4 linked regions of the Homo sapiens genome follow. The protein of the gene in region 2 purifies or fractionates together with the protein of the main gene of each other region. This does not show direct contact. Each region holds a gene or a part of one and is shown on either strand. Other genes may lie near its edges.

Evidence for each region. Proteins that work in one complex are often made in the same cells at the same time.
Region 1: the proteins of SLC9A9 (region 2) and CXADR purify together in Homo sapiens (affinity purification with mass spectrometry; one large-scale study listed by BioGRID and IntAct). This does not show direct contact.
Region 3: the proteins of SLC9A9 (region 2) and ABCB1 purify together in Homo sapiens (affinity purification with mass spectrometry; one large-scale study listed by BioGRID and IntAct). This does not show direct contact.
Region 4: the proteins of SLC9A9 (region 2) and STX16 purify together in Homo sapiens (affinity purification with mass spectrometry; one large-scale study listed by BioGRID and IntAct). This does not show direct contact.

Annotation. Positions count from the first base shown.
Region 1 is NC_000021.9:17,560,668-17,565,496, reverse strand, and holds part of CXADR (coxsackievirus and adenovirus receptor isoform 1 precursor), read right to left. Parts: intron 4,796-4,829; coding exon 4,673-4,795; intron 4,160-4,672; coding exon 4,021-4,159; intron 70-4,020; coding exon 1-69. UniProt on the Homo sapiens protein: Component of the epithelial apical junction complex that may function as a homophilic cell adhesion molecule and is essential for tight junction integrity.
Region 2 is NC_000003.12:143,845,207-143,850,786, forward strand, and holds the start of SLC9A9 (sodium/hydrogen exchanger 9), read right to left. Parts: upstream 3,263-5,580; 5' UTR 3,117-3,262; coding exon 2,942-3,116; intron 1-2,941. UniProt on the Homo sapiens protein: Endosomal Na(+), K(+)/H(+) antiporter. Mediates the electroneutral exchange of endosomal luminal H(+) for a cytosolic Na(+) or K(+).
Region 3 is NC_000007.14:87,504,247-87,507,759, forward strand, and holds part of ABCB1 (ATP-dependent translocase ABCB1), read right to left. Parts: intron 1,798-3,513; coding exon 1,651-1,797; intron 204-1,650; coding exon 1-203. UniProt on the Homo sapiens protein: Translocates drugs and phospholipids across the membrane. Catalyzes the flop of phospholipids from the cytoplasmic to the exoplasmic leaflet of the apical membrane.
Region 4 is NC_000020.11:58,649,071-58,654,536, reverse strand, and holds the start of STX16 (syntaxin-16), read right to left. Parts: upstream 3,255-5,466; 5' UTR 2,531-3,254; coding exon 2,399-2,530; intron 1-2,398. UniProt on the Homo sapiens protein: SNARE involved in vesicular transport from the late endosomes to the trans-Golgi network.

The sequences.
Region 1 (4,829 bases), on a different chromosome or scaffold from region 2:
GATGAATGATTACTGCCGATGTAGCTTCTGGCAGTGGACGTACGGCTCTTTGGAGGTGGCACATCTTCCCTGCAAAGCAAAATCCCCAATACATGTCAAGAGAATAAGTTTCTAAAAACCTACAATTATGCAAGCTATGAATCATGGATAAGAGCCTGTATTTAGGTACTAAACATATAAAAGTGTGTGTGTGTGTGTGTGTGTGTGTGTGTGTCACAAAAAAGCAAAAAGCACAAGCCATAACGTCATAAATTGTGTATGTCTCCAATCTGTCATTCTGATTAAAGAGTTATAACTTCACACTTAATGAAATATGGTATTTACACAAATGTAGATGATTCTAGAATGTTGTCTTACAAAACACAAATCTCAAATAGTTTCATATTCTAGTATCACTGGTCAAGACAATCTAGTTAAAGCCATGTAACACTTTATAGTTGAGAAAACACTAACACCTACAGGTATATTTCTATCTTAATCACACCTGTAATCCCAGCACTTTGGGAAGCTGAGGTGGGCAGATCACTTGAGATCAGGAGTTCAAGACTAGCCTGGCCAATATGGCAAAACCCCATCTCTACTAAAAATACAAAAATTAGCCGGGCTTGGTGGCAGGTGCCTGTAATCCCAGCTACTCGGGAGGCTGAGGCAGGAGAATCGCTTGAACCCAGGAGGCCAAAGTTGCAGTGAGCCAAGATTGCGCCACAGCACTCCAGCCTGGGCGCCAGAGTGAGACTCTGTCTCAAAAAAAGAGAAATAAATAATAAATTTTAAAATTTTTTAAAAAAGGAAAAGAAAAAATTCTTTTTATATTAAAGTTATCTAAAACCTTAGCTGAAAACACTACAGATTTAAGTTTGCTGGGAATTTAGGCATAAGAATTTTCATACCAAACACTGACAGAGAGCTCAACTGGCCCTCCACATCCACGGGTTCCACATCTGTGAAGCCAACAAACCATGTATAGAAAATTTTGTTTTAATATTTTTAAAATACCTAACATGTACAGCTTTTTTCTTGTCATTATTCCCTAAACAATACATTATAACAATTATTTACATAGTATTTACATTATATTAGGTATTATAAGTAATCTAGAGATGACTCGAAGTATACAGAAGAATGTGTGCAGGTTATATACATTGTATCTTTTTCTTTTTCCTTTTTTTTTTTTTAATAGAGACATCTTGCTCAGGTTGGTGTCTTGAACTCCTGGGCTCAAATGATCCTCCCATCTCCGCCTCCCAAAGTGCTGGGATTACAGGCGTGAGTCACTGCGCCTGGCCGCCATTTTATATCAGGGACTTGAGCATCCTTGGATTTTGGTATCTGCAGGAGGTCCTCCATGGATACCGAAGAATAACTATGTATATGAGTTATCTTTGGTGCATTTAAAAAATACAGCCATACTCGTTTCATTGTGCCTTGCTTTTATTACACTTCATAGATACTTACTGCATTTTTGTTTTGTTTTGTTTTTTCTTTACAAATTGAAGGTTTGTGGTAACCTTGTGTCAAGCAAATGTATCAATACCTTTTTTTTTTTTTTTTTTTTTGAGACAGAGTCTTGCTCTGTTGCCCAGGCTGGAGTGCAGTGGCGTGATCTCAGCTCACTGCAAGCTCCACCTCCCGGGTTCACGCCATTCTCTTGCCTCAGCCTCCCGAGTGGCTGGGACTACAGGCGCCCGCCACTGCACCCGGCTAATTTTTTGTATTTTTAGTAGAGACGGGGTTTCACCGTGTTAGCCAGGATGGTCTCTATCTCCTGACCTCGTGATCCACCCATATCGGCCTCCCTAAGTGCTGGGATTACAGGTGTGAGCCACCGTGCCCGGCCACCAGTACCATTTTTCCAACAGCATGTGCTCACTTCATGTCTGTGTTGCATTTTGGAAATTCTCACAACAGTTCAAACTTTCTCATAATCATACCTGTTAGGGTGATCTGTGATCAGTGATCTTTGATGTTACTATTTTAACTGTTTTGGGGCACCATGAATGATGCCCATAAGAGACAGCAAACTTAATAAATGTTGTGTGTGTTCTGGCCATCCCCCCCAACATCCTCCCCATCTCTCACCCCTCCCTCAGGCCTCCCTATTCCCTGAGACACAATGATATTGAAATTAGGCCACTTAATAACCCTACAATGACCTCTAAGTGTTCAAGTAAAAGGAATAGTTATCATGGCTCTACTTTTTAAAAAAATATCTTATTTATTTTGAGACTGTCAACCACGGTAGGGTGCAGTGGTGCGATCCTAGCTCACTGCAAGCTCAAACTCCTGGAGTCAAGCAATCATCAGCAAGGCTCTCTTTAAATCAAAACCCAGAAATAATTAACCTTAGTGAGGACAGCATGTTGAAAACCAACACTGGTTGAAAGCTAGTATCTTGCACCAAACAGCCAAACCAAATTGTAAATGCAAAGAAAAAGTTCTTAAAGTAAAGTCAAAGTGTTACTCCAGTGAACACGTGAACGATAAGAAAGTGAAGCAGTCTTATTGCTGATATGGAGAAAGTTTAGTGGTCTGGATAGAGGATCAAAATAGTCACAACATTCCCTTACACCAAAGCCCAATCCAGAGCAAGGCCCTAACTCTATTCAATTCTATCAAGGCTGAGAGAGCTAAGGCAGCTGCAGAAGAAAAGTTGGAAGCTAACAGAGGCTGGTTAATGAGTTTAGGGAAAAAGGCCATTTCCATAACATAAAAATACAAAGTGAAGCAACAAAGTGCTGATGAAGAAGCTACAGAAAGTTATCCAGAAGATCTAGTTAAAAGATCGTTGATGAAGGTAACTACACTAAGTAACAGATTTTCAATAGAGACAAAACAGACTTCTACTGGAAGAAGACACCATCTAGGCCTTTAGTGGCTAAAGATGTCAATGTCTGGCTTCAAAGCTTTAAAGGACAGGTTGACATCTTGGCAGGAGCCAATGCAGCCCAGGAGTTCGAGACCACCCTTGGCAACATGGTGAAACCCCATCTCTACAAAAAATACAAGAATTAGTCAGGTGTGGTGGCTTATGCCTGTAGTCCCAGATACTCGGAAAGCTGAGGTGGGAGGATCACTTGAACCCAGGGGGCAGAGGTTGCAGTGGGCCATAATTGTATCACTCCACTCCAGCCTGGGCAACAGAGAGCGAGACCTTGTCTCAGAAAACAAACAACAAAAAACCCAACAACCAAAGAAAGAAATTGCCATAGCCACTGCAACCTTCAGCAACTACCATCCTGATCAGCCACCAGTCATCAACAGTGAGGCATGACCTTCCACCAGCAGAGAGATTAAGACTCACTGAGGGCTCAGATAATCATTAGCATTTTTTAGCAATATTTTTTAATTGGGGTATCTACACTGTTTTTTTACACATAATGCTACTGCACATTTTAGACTACAATATAGTATAAACATAACCTTTTATGCACTGGAAAAACAAAAACATTCATGTGATTTATCGCAGTGTGCGATAACTCTGAAGTGTGCCTGTACAAGTGTCCAGACCCCACCCTAGACCTGCCAAATGTCAATTTCTAGGGTGTGAAGTCATGTGTTATTACTTCTAAAATTCTATTATCTAATATGCACACTTCTCGTTAAGACCTACTGATTTAGAATATTTAAGGAAAATAAAAATTATACTACCAATTGTTCTACAAACTTCCAGATTACTTGATACAATCAGGTCAGTTTTTTTTTCAAACCTCAATATCTACTTCATCCCTACCACTGCAGGCAGGGATTCTTCTCAAGAAGCAGGCAGTCTTGAGATAATCATTTGGCAGTGGTTCTTAAAATGGGGTACGAGAAGGTTGGGGAGCGGGGCACAACGAATGGTGGTTGGAGCTCTGCACTTGCAGTTAGAAGTAAATGCTTTCAAATGTATTGAGAAGGCGGCCAGAGCTTTTACCCATTCTCCTAAGAAAGATGCTTTGGGTGGTTAATAAGAGAACGAATGCTTTAGAGAAATGACATATATTTGGTATACATCAGTCAACTCCTGTCTCACTTAATTACCTGATATCGTGATGAACTTCCTTTTCATATTTTTCTTCTCTGCGCTTTTTACGACAGCAAAAGATGATAAGACCAATGAGCGCTAGAGCAAGCAAAGTTCCTATAATGGCTCCTGCAATTAGTCCAGCTTTATTTGAAGCTAAAATAAGAAGAATTAATAGTAAAAAATATATACATATATACATGTATAGATACTGAAGGTAGGCTATACATTTTTAGATTGATTTCATCACGTGTTAACTTTAAGACAAATTATTTAGTCTTTTTGATCCGGGGGAAAAATTCATAAAAAGAACTGTCTTCTGAACTGTATAATCTATTCCAAGCATTAAAATGATAAAACCTGTCTGAAAGATTTTAATATTCAAAGCTATCTTGGTTAACATATAAGAATGTTCTAAGCTACTCATACTTATAACAGCTAAATATGGTACAAGGGTTGATTTGACAACTCTTACCTTCTTAATATATCATTGCAATTATGAAGTTTTTTTAATAAAATGTATTTTTCTAGAAAAGCTAATAATCAAACCACAGTGTTCTGATCAAAGTCAGTGTCCCTTTGTCCTTAATACACACTTGCTGACTGAACTAAAGGAGGTGGTATAAAGATAACAGAAACAAAACCACCAACAGAAAGAAGATAACTTACGAGGGACAACGTTTAGACGCAACAGGCACTGATCAGAGCCCACTCTGTTTCTGACTGTACAGCTGTATGTCCCAGAGTACTCAGAAGAGGCATTTTTTACAGATATAACAGATGAAGTCATTTCTATGGAAGGAGGAAAAAGAAAACAAACTCATTT
Region 2 (5,580 bases):
AGTCTTCATTTGTTTGTCTGCAAAATGAGAATGCTGGATTTATGATCTTTAAGGCTCCTTCCCCATCTATGATTCCAAGTTCATTTATAGCTGTTGGACAATTAATTCACTTGGCATCTCCTTTCCCCTATCATTAAAAAGTGTTTACTACAGTATCCCATCATGTTCCTCTGGTGTAGTTTCAGACTATTTTATTACATTACTGATAGAAAGTTCCTAATAAGCATTTAAGATATAACATTTAGGACATCCCTGAAGAAGAAATGTGACAAGTCATGAATGCCACCCATATGGAGTACTTTCAGAAAACACAGGGAGAGTTCTTTCAGGTGAACGTGAACCTTAGTAAGACATGCAGATGAGTGAAAGCACATGGACCAGTCATGAGTGGCTATTCAGTTTTGGAAAGTCCCTTCACTTCTCTGGGATTCAGCTTCTGCCTCTCTAAAATAAAGGGGATAGAGAAGATAACCTCTAAAATTCTTTGACATCCTAACAATTATGATTCTATGCCAAGAAAAAGTTAAACATCACTAAAATATGTCTTTTCATTGATCTATATAGTTCAAGATAACTGAAAGATACTCAAAATTTCTAGTAAGAGAATACATATATATGCATATCTCCATAATTTTTATAATCCTTTTACATTGCACTGGTTCAGAATTTGCTTTCAATAACTTTTACTTTAAAAAACTCATGAAAGAAGAATAGGAATCAGAGAACCCAACTTAATTCCACTCATAAACTTTAAGCCTTTATCTGCCTTAAGAACAGCAATTTAGAGAAATGCTACCTCAATAGCAGTGGTCAATGAACTACTATTTTATTATTTCAAGCACAATTTAAAAATATTTCAGAGAGTTTTGCAGGATTAAAGGTAACCTGGAATTTTTCAGATTCAAAAGTAAGAGTTACTGTATGTATTGTGAATGCAAAACATGACTGAATTTTAGTAGGTTATCAAAACTTTTACGAAAACAATATCCCCACCATTGAACTTGGTAAATGAGTCATAGTTCAATCAAATTCAGGGATGTGAAGAAATCTTTCCCTCTAATAAAGGTTGGCAATCTATTAAATCTGGGTAGTTTTGCTAAAGCACATATGTCCCTTTAATATGATATCAAGAATTACATTGTTTCTGGCTTCTCAGATTCTATTCCATATCCTTGCAGATTACTTATTAGTCAAGTCAAGAGAAAAATTCTGTTCATGATGGAGATAGGCAAATGACAGGAACCTAGGGCTTCACATCTGATGGCATCCCCTCCTTTTTGTTTGGCTATTTCTCTCCCACCTGATTGTGATTTTTTTTTTCTCTTAAATGAGAGTTTTCTTGTGCCCGTTAAGACCCTCAATACTGGCTGGGAATGGTGGCTCATGCCCGTAATGCCAGCATTTTGGGAGGCCAAGGTCAGTGGATCTCTTTAGGCCAGGAGTTGGAGACCAGCCTGGGCAACATAGTGAGACCCTGTCTCCACTAAATTTTAAAAAATAAATAAAACAATACAGCAAAAAAAGGTTTTTTTTTTTTTTGCATTTGGGTTATGTTTTTTTTCTTTTTTTAATTATACTTTAAGTTTTAGGGTACATGTGCACAACGTGCAGGTTAGTTACATATGTATACATGTGCCATGTTGGTGTGCTGCACCCATTAACTCGTCATTTAACATCAGGTATATCTCCTAATGCTGTCCCTCCCCACTCCCAAGCAAAAAATTTTTAAAAGACCCTCAGTACCAAGGAATTTAACTCTGTGCTCTGAATGGATCAGCATATCAGCCTCCTGAGCCTGAAACTTCCGCCTTATAGCTCAAGTATCTCACAGTGGGATCCACTTAAGGCTTAGGATTCCTTAGGTTCTGAAATCACAACTATACACTGTTAATATCAGGACACCACAGGATTAGCATATACAATGTGCATTGATCTGTACCCTGAATCTCAGGCTTAGGAAAGGGTTTCAGGATTTCCAAAATGAGGAAACCCCAAATATAAAAGTATGTTATTTGCTATAAATTATAGCAATGCCTTGCCTGTTGCCATTGTGTTCAAACTTCCTATCCATTATCAGGCTGAGATAAGAGCAGTGAAGTAAACTATTTCATCAGTAACACCAGTAAAAACTGGTGTCTTTCATTTTACTTTAAAAGATGAGAGTACAGACAGATAATCTCTGTCAGACTTTATTAAACTTTCTGAAAGGAATGATACGGTAAGTTGCCCAGAAAGAGCAATACTGCAGGTGTTAAATATTTTTCCACACCTTGGCCTCCAATACATAAATAGGAGATACATAACAAATAACACTAGCAATGATCATTATAAATTAGAACATCTGAAATCAGGCTAAGAAGTAAAAAGTACTGCATAAAGAAACTCTCGTTTATTTATAACTTTTTATTATAAGAAAATAAGACACTGTTCGTATAAATAAAAAGGACTTGGACACAATATTCTCTTAAGAGGGGTGGGGTTAGTTTCTGCAAGTTTTCTTCTTGAAATTAGTTGATATAAGAGGAATTACTCCAGGCATTTTGAAGTGATGTTTTTTCTAGAACTTCGTAATGTTCATCGGTGCAGCCAGTGAGAGAAGGCTGCTCTTTGTGACTGCAGAGCCATCACTTCCCAACATCATTACAAAAACAAACAGCTCGCCCTCGACTCCCCACATGACAATGGACCCGCATCTGTCAACAGACTTGCATTATGTGCCGTGTGAGAACATGACTGTGACATTTGCTCTCGTGACATGGCAAATTTCGGCGGCTTGTCTGTAAAGAGATTAGCATTCGTTACGCTGCAGCACCTTTCATCAAACTAATGACATTTCAATCAGCACATTTTCTCCAGTTTCGGTACTTTGCTATCTGAGCACAAGTCTCTAATTACGCTCAAGCAACAAGTTTCACATCAATCTCACAATTTATGCACTCACCATACACCATTGCTCCTCCAGTTTCATGCAAGAAGCGGAATCGATGATTTTTAAATAACCAGATTGTCAAAATGGTAAGGATGAGCAAAAAATTGAAGACAAGCAGCTCCACCGCTCCCTGATGTTGAAACTGATACTCATCCTTTTCTGACATAACCCTTGACTGTCTCTCCATTCCCCAGTCTTCTTGGGATTCCTTAGATAAAAACCTGGATAAAGGCTATTTTATCAAGATTTGCCTAAGACAGTCTGACTGCCTGAGAATTTCAGAAGAAACACTGCCACTTTAGTTGCTACTTCACAAGCATTCTGCCCTGGCTTAGTATTCAGATGGCTTCTAGTTACAACTTCCTGTTTCTCTCTTAAAGCAGCCCTGTCTCTTTTCAAACTCGAGAGTGTGTGGTTTCATCACTGACTCTTAATGTCTTTAAGTGATTCATCTCATGAAAATATCTTTCATACTGGACAAATCTGCAAGCAATGATGCTAAGATCTTGAATCACGGTCTTATTATTCCAAATAAGTCTTCTTAAGCTGCATAAATATGAACTGTAGATTAATAATAAAAAAGGTAGCCTTACACTAGCAACGTTTTCTAAGTTCAAAAAGCCAATTCCTGACTCAACTTCACCTAAATGCAAGATCTTTCCTCTCTAACCAAGACCTGCCAAAGTGATGGGGATTGATAGCACAGTTATCAATCAGCCTCTGTGCTCTAAATGGATCAGCATATTAGCCTCCTGAAAAGATATTACACTGCTTAGCCTGAAACTTCCGCCTCATAGCTCAAGTATCTCACAATGGGATTCACTTAAGGCATAGGGTTTCTTATAGGGTTTCTTATGCTCTCAAATCATGACTGTACATTGGTTAAGCAAACCTAAAGTGATTTCACAGGATTTTTTTTTTTTTTTTTTAGTTGAGAAGCAAGAAAGGATTTAGTATATGACTCTATTTGGCTTTATATAATTGATAGTTGCAGAGCAGCCTTTAAACTCTAAATCAATTGTTTTTCTTTTAACAAGAGAAAACAATGAAAGCAAAAGACAAATAAAATTCCATCCCCATCTCTACAACTGTACTGTTTGGATACGTTGAGACAAAAAAGAAAAAAAACAAAACACATTACTTCGAAAGAGAAACTCACGCAGCCATCCTCAGCAACGCCACATGCATGGATTTCTCTTTGTAGGGTTCCTGGTCTCGGCATCCAGGACCCACAGAAATCTGCAATAGATCACAACCTCCTCTGTCCTATGGCAAAACAATGTTGCTCACTGAGAAATGGTTCTGCCACCAGAAATGAAAGCTCTGTATTCACAGGATTCTGATCATAAGAGTGATGATTCTTCAGATCATCTTCCATGTGGCAGGTTGCTCCTGTCTGATTTCATATTTTTCTACTTTAAAATAGTTCAAGATAATACCATGGGTTCTGCAGCTTTTTTTTCCTTTTCTTTCTTTTTTCTTAGCAAATATTATGACCTGCTTGCTTTTAACACTTGATCCTATAACACATTTGGGTATATCCTGGGGTTAGCTGATTTTTTTTTTCATTTTACCATATCATTGTAATTTGGGAGTATTAATCACTTATGATCCCCATTTTGACACAATTAATGCTCAATTTATACAATGTGATTTCTTATTGAGTAGGCTGAGCCCAAATGCGTCCTGAAACAATTTTTGTCACTAAAAGCTAAAGGTCAAGCATGTAATATTATTGGGAGCTAACTACCTCCTCAACAAACAGTTTCACCATGAGAGCAAGTCTATCAACCCCTTAATACAAAGCTCTGCTGTTTCAGCATCTTTGCTTTGTGCAACTTTGGAAGCTTATTTCCTCTCTGAGTTTAACTTAGCAGAGGGTATTTATGTGTGCTGCAGATGTTCTTCTGACACGCTACCCTTTTTGGCAGGAATATCTGTGATGACTAATATTCATACTGTTTTGAAACCTATCAGCTAATGCTTGCAAGCATTTCATGGAGCTTTGCTAGCAGGTTCTACCTTTATGATTTTGCAACTCCACAGGTTCAGTCGAGTTGTCAGATATACAAGATAACACAAATTCAGAAACTTCCTGTCCTTTTGTTTTTTGTCATTATTGAATTACTTTGGTTTTCTTTTATCACAATTATTCCATCTGAGTAGAATAAACATTCTCTGGTTGATCCGTGACATCCAGTTTCACTCTTTTAACCAATGAAGCAACTTGACAAAAGATTAATGGCCCATAGAATGTTTTGATTGGCTTACACGTCTTTTTAAAAAGTTTTAGGTTTGATGTCAACACATTCAAATCAGTATATTTAACATTTAAAAAATCATATGGCTTTTTGCAAGAAAAACTTGTAAGATCTGGCACACTGGGCCCTTCTTACATGGCCACAATCTGTTGGGGCTGAGTGGTTGCCTGCTGCATTTGCAACCAGCTTGCCACAAGTCCATTCATCCCTCTTCTTTCATTCATGGTCCCCGTGTGGCCCCTGCAGATGTTTGAATGTATGACCCCTGCTTTATTCCAGGAATGGAGTACATTCACTATTCCATTGTTCATTCCTGATGCTGCTTCACATTGGGGGGAAAAGCTTGAAGAAAAGGGGCTCAGGAAACATCTCCAATTCCTCCATCCAGAA
Region 3 (3,513 bases), on a different chromosome or scaffold from region 2:
TGGCGCTTTGTTCCAGCCTGGACACTGACCATTGAAAAATAGATGCCTTTCTGTGCCAGCAGCTGCTGATGCGTGCCATGCTCCTTGACTCTGCCATTCTGAAACACCACTATTAAGTCTGCATTCTGGATGGTGGACAGGCGGTGAGCAATCACAATGCAGGTGCGGCCTTCTCTGGCTTTGTCCAGGGCTTCTTGGACAACCTATTCCATAATCACATAGATTAATTCTCATAATAGTTCTTTTCCCTAATTCCTCTTCCATAAAAAGCTCCACAGTAGGACGGGCATGGTGGCTCACGCCTGTAATCCCAGCACTTTGGGAGGCCAAGGCGGGCAGATCACAAGGTCAGATTGAGACCATCCTGGCTAACACGGTGAAACCCCATCTCTATCAAAAATACAAAAAATTAGCTGGGCTTGGTGGTGGGTGCCTGTAGTCCCAGCTAGTCGGGAGGCTGAGGCAGGAGAATGGTGTGAACCCGGGAGGCAGAGCTTGCAGGGAGCCAAGATTGCGCCACTGCACTCCAGCCTGGGCGACAGAGCGAGACTCCATCTCAAAGAAAAAAAAAAAAAAAAGCTCCACAACAATACAACAATAGATCCTTCTTAACAAGGTGTCAGTGAAATAGAACAGGTTTTTGAAAACAAAGGATTTGTCATATCAGATGACTGAACCCTAATTTGGGTTAGTTCCGAGGCAGCAGTTATCTATCCCTAACTTTTTTTTTTTATTTGAAACAGGGCCTCACTCTGTCACCAGGGTGGAGTGTAGTGGTACAATCATGGCTTACTGCAGCCTCAACCTCCTGGGCTCAAGCGATTCTTCCACCTCAGCCTTCTGAGTAGCTGGGACTACAAGTTCCCACCACCATGCCTAGCTAATTATTTTATTTTTTGTAGAGACAATGTCTCTCTGTGTTACCCAGGCTGGTCTCAAAAATCCTGGGCTCAAGTGATCCTCCCACCTCAGCCTTCCAAAGTGTTGGGGTTACAGGTGTGAGCCACGGCAGTAGGTGCCGGCCAGCAGTCATCTACTCTTAAAGTTAAGGCAGTAAATACAGTTCACTGACTCATTTAAAAACATTTACTAATGTGTTTACCTTAGTTTCAAGGATGTTACAACATCCTTGAAAACAGACCTCAAATCCAGCTCACAGTAAATTCAAGAAGCCTGAGCAAAGGCCAAATACAGACTCCCGAATTTTTTTATTGTAGAGAATACCTCATACTGAGTTCGTCTTTCAGATAATCTGAATTTTTAACGTTTTCTCTGACTAGAAATGATTGCTAATATTTATCTTAAAAGGTACAGCCAGATTTTAACACTGTCTTACACTACCACTTTTCCTTATGGTTGCTGAAGAGATGCTGCCAGTAGAAGTAGGAAATATGGTTCCTGAAAGCAGCTTCTTAGGTCAACGCAAACTGATCTAGTGATGGTTTGTGAAGCATATGTGCTCTAAGACTAATCTGCCTTGTGTCATCTTTACTCTCCTGAATAACAGCTACAGAAAGTGTTTACATTTTACTGAAAGGTGATGTAAGTAACTGTCAATAATCTGGCTGCATTTTGTTCTTTACTATGGAGAATACAGCATTTTTAAGGATGACTGATTCAAGTATGGATGAACCCAATTTAAATTCTTACCTTTTCACTTTCTGTATCCAGAGCTGACGTGGCTTCATCCAAAAGCAAAATATGAGGCTGTCTAACAAGGGCACGAGCTATGGCAATGCGTTGTTTCTGGCCACCAGAGAGCTGAGTTCCTTTGTCTCCTACTTTAGTGCTATATTTCTGTAAATAAGGTTTTGTTGTTATGAAAGTAGAACTGAAAGTAAAGTTCTAACAGCTTGCTTATAGAAAGTAGGATAGACGATTCTATATACTCCAAAAATTTAGGTTCAGAAGCTAAGAATGGTTCATGAATAATTAAGGAAAGAACAGTAAAAAAGCCCAAAATGGCAGGTTTACTATCTATTTGAAAATAAATGTTTGGGCCTTAAGATGATATGTTTTAGTGTAAACAGGTCAGCATTTTAATGAAGAAGAATATTGTTGCAATGTTAGTATCTTCCATCTTCTGATTTCATTATATTTGGGACAAAGATTGGCAGGAGAAAGGAAATTTGATTTGAACAAAGTATTCATAATAAAATAATTGAAGCTCATCTTACTTGTAACCAGCAGGTGACACTCTCTGCATGATTTTAAATTGAGGAAAGACATTCTTGGGATATCAGCCTTTTAGTGTCTGTTTTTATGAAAGTATCTCCAACACTTAAACAATTTTAATGGATGCTATCAAAATGGATTCCATTTTGATATCTAACTTTGAAAATGAACATCTCCTTTTTAAACATTTTTGTTGTTAGAGTGCTCCCAAAATTCTTCCCGTGTTGTTTCCCACAATGGATAATTGTCACCAACTATTCACTATGATGATAGGGACAGCAGTTAAAGGTTACTCAGGAGAGAGCAGAAACAGGATGTGACTGCACTTGTAACCTAGAAAACAATACTATCTTATTATTTCCAGGCTGAAATTTTAGTACAGGGTTGCCTATTTTTATTTGCTATATCTGGCAACCCTAGTTTTGTGGCACTCAGCCCTGGGTTTCCCCCTGTAAATAGAGGGAGAAGACGCCAGATGAGGTTTTGGCAGATGCTTGGGACTGGCTCTACCCCAGAGCTGTGGCTGTCTCAGAAGGCAGGAGCACTGAAGTGTATCTCATGTGAGTGGAGGGTTTACTAGTTGCACTCTTGATATAGTACTGATCCTGTTGAGGCAGATAAAGGCAGTGCGGCAGTCTTACAAGGAGGTAGCTAAACCAGCCACCTACAGGGTGAGGTAAATCCTAGTATTAATCACTTAGGAGAAGTGGATCCTTAGGTAATAGGACTTAGGGGTTTTACCTTTTCTCTCCTGGTCTAGACACTGAGGAAGAGAATTATGGTGTCTACAGGTGTGTTCTGTGTGACAGATTAGAGACCAGGATTTGTCCTGTGGTAGACAAATGCCAGAGAGGCAAAGTATATTTAAAAAGATAGATAATAGTTACTCTCTGTGTTTGTGTTTTATTAACCCCTAGCCCAGTGGTTCCCCAATTTGAGCCTGCAACAGTATTACCTGGGCTCTTAAAACGTGGATTGCTGGATCTGCAGTCCTAACAGGTTCCCAGGTGATGCTGATCCGTGTCTATACTTGAGAACCACTATCCTCTCATCAGTAAAGGGGATTGGAGCTTTCTGTTTTAAATGTTTGAGCCTGGAGAAGGGTCAATTATCTAGTTGGGCTAGACTGTGAAAGGAGAGTGGGAGACAAGGCCACCTCCCTGGGACTTAATGAGATTGGTGTCAGCAGTTATCCAAAGAAGAGCCTATGGAAGAAGGGAATCTTGGGAAAGAGAGCCACCTGGTGTTGCTTGCCTGCCTCGTGAGGAAACTGTCTTCCCCGCCGGGTTGAGGCTCCTGAGCTTTGTTTTAGGGGGCACTTCCTTAGAATAAAGAGCA
Region 4 (5,466 bases), on a different chromosome or scaffold from region 2:
TAAAGCTTTTCCAACTTCCAGAAAAGTTGAAAAAATCATAACCTCTATTTAGTCTTGTTAGCATTTCGCCGTACTGTGTGCAGAATAGATTTTGTTACGAATCACCTGTAAGCAAAGTGAAGATGTAACACTTCAACCCTAAATACTTCAGAAATTTATGACATGCCATTTTTTAACACAATTAAAATATATAAATCTGTGTTTTATTTTTAAATTTGAATTCAGGCAAACTATGTTTGTTAGACTGCAAAACCTATTTTTGAGATAGTATGGATTGACTATAAGGATATTTTAAATGATATGACTGCTTTCAATGATCTGAGAAAGATTTTAAATGGTCAGACTAATATAAATATTAACATTTTCAATGGTATGACATTTAGAAAACATTTTTTAACGTTCTTAGAAATGTATTTTTAGTTGGGTTTAGAAATCTATTTTCAAAAAACTGTGAGTTAGCTAAATGTATCTGTATATACCCTGACATATCTATTTTTCCAAACTGTATACGTTAACTATCCATTTTTAATTATTCTGCTTAGCTTAAATATTTTTTAAAATTGCCTAACTTAGAAAATAATTTTCTAAAGTGGTCTGATTCAGAGATGCACTTTTAAAAAGCTTCCCGTCTCAGATACTAGGTTTTTAAACTGTCTGACTTAATCGGGAAAAAAAAAAAAACCCTCATGTTACCCAAAGGTTCAGGGTATTTTGAACCTTAATGATTAAAAATTGAAAAATAAACAATATGTTTTTCAATTAAAACTGATACCTTAGAAATCTTAATATGAGTTTCAGTAGTTTTTGAGGCAGCACAAAATCAAGTCATTTAAGGAACATGCAGTTCTTATTTAACATTACTGAAGTTCCATTAAGGAATTGAATTCATCCAATTTCTACTCGATTTCTTGGATTATTTCTTCTTCAAAATTAGCGCTAGAATTAGCCTGTTTCTATGCTACCAGACATCTTTACATTTATTTCAATATAATGTAATTCCTTTCCGTTTATAAATGTAAAAAAAACCCTTCAACTTCTTAATTAACTGAAATCTCACACACACTCTGTCCCTAGTTCTAGGCTGTTTGACCTGAGTTTACATGCTTTTATTCCTGAAACCGCTCACACGGCTTAAAATGACTTTTCTATCAGTTATATGGCCAAAGACATTCTCCACCTGTGACTTACAAAAAGGAGAAACTGTCTTTGTAGACATGATAATCATGACATATGGCAAAATTTTCCTGAAGCATTTAGATAAAGCCATAAAGAAAAAAATAAACTGGCAATACAGTCCCTAAGAGGTGAAATGAATGTTCCAAAATTGCCTAATATCAAGTATAACCCCCAAGAATGTGGTCCTGGGATGGCTATTTCCCGCCTGTTCCAACGCTGCTTCTATTCCAACCTAGTCTGCCTACAGCAGGTAGCCTGAACTACAGCCAGTTTCATAACTTCACTTTTCAATTGAAGACATTACAGAGCTAACGATCACTGTCTGGTATAGATCATCCAGACTCGCCCCTTATTTAACAGAGCAGTAAACTGAGGCTCAGAAAGGGAAAAGTAGCCCCCATTAAAAACAAACCCCAAACAGTAATTTTTCCAGGACCACCCTTAAAAAACGCTACTGCTAGGCTAACTAAAGGTTGTGGTTAATTAAAAAAAAAAAGTGCTATTTTACGGGGTTAATTTTCACATATACCTCCTCAGGCTTTTTTTAAAAAGTTCGAATGGAGAGGAAAGCTTAATTTCCTGTCTGGGAAATGGAAAGTGAAGAGGCTAGCACCTTGAGTCTCACAAACGCAAGCCCCCAGGAAGAACAGTGAGGCAATTATTCACAGGGAACAAGGCCACACAGAGGGCTGCGGGGCCGTTAAAAGAAAACGGGCGGAAAAACAAAACAAAACAAAACAACAACACAACTCCCTCCTCTTTGAGGGGAGGGAGTCGTTCATTTTGCAAGGATTTGGGTCTACGATCCGGCGACCCAGCCCTTAGGACCAAACTGAGGCTCATTACTGGGGGGAGGGGAGCTTCAAACAAAACGAAACAAAAAGGCTTCAGAAAGGCCCAATGCTTCCCAATGTTAGCGTTAAAACATATGTAAATTACAGGCGGCCTGTAGCGCAGTGACGCCAAGGCGGGGGGTGCGGGGGGGGGGGTGCTGCGGAAGTGAGGAGAAGACCGGGCAGAGGTGGAGCTGCGGCCTCACAGCACCGCTTCTTCCTCATCCAGGGCTACAGATGCCCCCTGACTCTAGCCAAGAGATCTTATTATTCTTAGTCTTATTATTCTTATCTTCTCTTTTTAAACAGAGAGACAGACAGAGACAGACAAACAGGCAGAGCCGCAGTGCACACGGTCCGTGTGTCGGAGAGGCCGCCAGGAGACTCACCGCAGCAATGCTACGTGAATGCAGAGGGCTGGAGGTGATGTGACTACTCACTTGCTCGGCTAACAGCTGCCGGTTTTGGATGGAATTATTCCGCAACAACAAGAAAGCGTCGGTTAAACGCCTGGTGGCCATGTCTCACCCTTTGCGACCCCCCTCTCAGGGGCCCCCCGCCCACTTATATTCCTGATTTATTCACTTTCTTTCTCGTGGCCCGGCTGGCCCACCCTTTCACGGAAGCTTCTCGACAAGGCCTCAGGCCTCAAGCCAAAAAGATGCAGCTGTGCGCTTCGCCAAGGCGTAGAGACCCCTCCCCAAATAACTACCTAGGCTTTCCAATTGTCTGACTCCCCCTACCCAGGGCAGACTTCGATCTCTAAGCACTTGAATCCCCCCAATCCTTGCGTAGCGATCCAACGTCCCAGAGACCCCACCCCAATCCAACCTTGGATCTACAAGCGTCTAACTCGCCAATCCGGCTCTAGACTGGGAGGCCCTGAAGCCCCCTACTCCCTGAGACCCCCCGGAGGTCTCTGCTCTCTACCCCTAACTTTGGCTCGTAAGCGTCTAGGCCGTGCCCTGAGGTCTGGCTGTGACTCAGTTTCCGCACCAGAGGCCTGGCCTAGGCCCTCTTTGGACAACCGGAGCCAGGCTTGGGGCCTGGACTCGAGGGCGCCTGCAGCTCCCTTCTGGGGACTTGTCTGAACCTGCTGAGGCCCTGCCCGACCTCCTGACCCCTTCCTTTCCTGGACGGCCTGGTCCTCCACTGCCAGCAGGCTGCCGGCCTGCAGGAAGACAGCAGGGCCTGCCTCCCCGGCCTTCTCACTCCTCTTCTCCGGCTCCCTCCATCCCCGGATCTGACTGCAGCTCAGCCCCGGACCGTTTCCGTGCTGTGGTCCCGGGTTCTGGCGTTCCCCCCTGGCCCTCTTCCTGTCCGTCCCTCGCGAGTGCCCCCCTGCGACGCTCGCAAGCCTTGCTCGCAACGTTCCGGGCGCGGGAGCTCCCTGCACTCCTGCCCCGGGGCACGGGAGTGCTCCGCCCTCTCCCGGGGTGCTCCTCGGGCGCCCTGTTTCGCCTCCCCCAACTGGGTCCAGGCACTAGGAGCAGGCCAACGAGCAGGCCTGAGCCTGGGGAGCGTGGCCCCCAGGCTGCAAACCGCTGCCAGGGCCCTTGGTCGCTGAATTAGAGTGGAAGTTGCGCGGCAGGCAAATTTGGGCTCCCCAAGAACTGAAGTTTTGGGCGCGGGGAGTTGGAGCGGGAGAGGAAAAGTTGGAGACGACTGCCTCTGCAGGCCGAGCACGCTCTACTGCAGGCGGCGGCGCTCGCTTTTTTTTTTTTTTTTCCCACTCTGGAAAAAGATGTATCCGACAAACAACCACGAGGAAATAAAAGGAAAAAAAAAAAAAAAAAAGGAACAAGAACTCCAGGCAGCCTGGCCGCGCCGCCGCTGGCAGTCGGGGGTCGTCGGGGGCGCCCGCCCTCCCCAGCTGCCGCTTTCTGTAGGGGGCACTGCAGGGTCGTGGAATCTCAAGTGGAAAAGTTCCCCGAAAACTTTGACACCTCCCACCCCCCTCCCCGCGAAAAAAATCTCTGTTCCCTGCCTGGGCCCTGGCCCTGCGACCCCCGCGCCCCCCCGTGCCCCGGGCCGGGTTTTCCACGGTTGGCCGGGCCCAGGGCGCCCTAAGCACCTCGACTTGCCGCCCCGGGCCAGGTCGGCGGGGTTCGTGCAGGGGCTCCGTGGGGCCGCGTCGGGCAGGGGCCGCCCGGGCCCGAGCACGGCACCCACAAACAGGCTGGCGTCCCGCGACGGAGACCCGGGTCCGGCCCGGAGCCGCCCGGGAGGCTTGAGGCCAAGGGCCTGGCCCAGCGCGCGGCCGGAGCGGGTCGGGGGCGCAGAGCTGTGCGGCGGCGCCTTCCGGGCCCCGGGCCTGTGCAGGGCCGGCTTCCCCTTGCGGGGCGAGGCTGCGGGCCGGGCTGCGGTGCGGGGTTCCAACAAAGGACCGAGGCCCCAGAAGCGGCCCCCACGCGTCCTTTGTTTCTGCGTGGAACAAACTTTACACACGTGTGTGTTTTCCGAGGGTTTCCCGTGTGCTGAGCGCTTGCAAAGCGGAGTCGCGCCCGGGGAGACGCGAAGCCGGTGCCCGCGGCTCACCCAGGGACCCCAGCCAGACAGCGGCACCCGCGGGGCGCGTGCGGGACCCCCAGGCGACCGGGGGAAGCACCGGTAACCGCCCCCCACCCGTGCTTTTTCTCTCACGGAGAATGTTCCCGCGCGTTCGTTGTGCAACTAAAAATTAATGTGAAACATCCATTGAGGCAAATAACAAAATGCATCCAACGAAACCCACATAAAATCGAGAGAGCCGCGAGCAGGGCTGGGCGAGTTCACTGTGAGGACCGGCTCTGGCTTCCGCGCAGCGCGGAGAGCAGGGCGCTCGCCCGGGGACGCTTCGCAGCGGTGGAAGATTCGGGCGACAGGGGACTGGGTCGCCGCGCGGGCCGGGCTGGAGGCTGCAGGGACTTGCTGACAGGCCATCCAAAGACAGAGAGGCCCTGGGGAGGGAAATTCGGGGAGCCCGTGTGCTTAGCGTAGCGCCCCGGGAAATATTTGCCCAATAAGGGAGAGTTTGTCCCCACACTGCGGCAGAACCCCCCTGCGAGCTCTGACCCCAGCAGCACGGCCAAGCCCCCCCAACCCCGCTCCCCCCTTTAGGGGACAGGTATTTGTAAATAACAACTGAGCTGGTCGTCGGTAGGAGAATCAGATTAGAAACATGGTCCCCACTCTCTTCCTATCTCCCCAGCACTCATCACCTCACAAAGCAGGGGGGGACCTGTTTACTTTTCCTGGCGCTCTCCCCCAGGCTAGAACGTGATCTTCTTCCTACGCAGGGACAGTGTTTTATTCATCTTTGTACCCACTGCCATCTCATCTGGCTTGGAACAGGCTCCGGATAAATATTTTTTAAATATGTGCATGAATTAATGAGAGACTCGAGATTTAGTCCCCAAACTCTCTGACCTCCCTCGAGTGACTTTAAGCCTTTAGAGCCCTTATCTGTTAAGAAAAA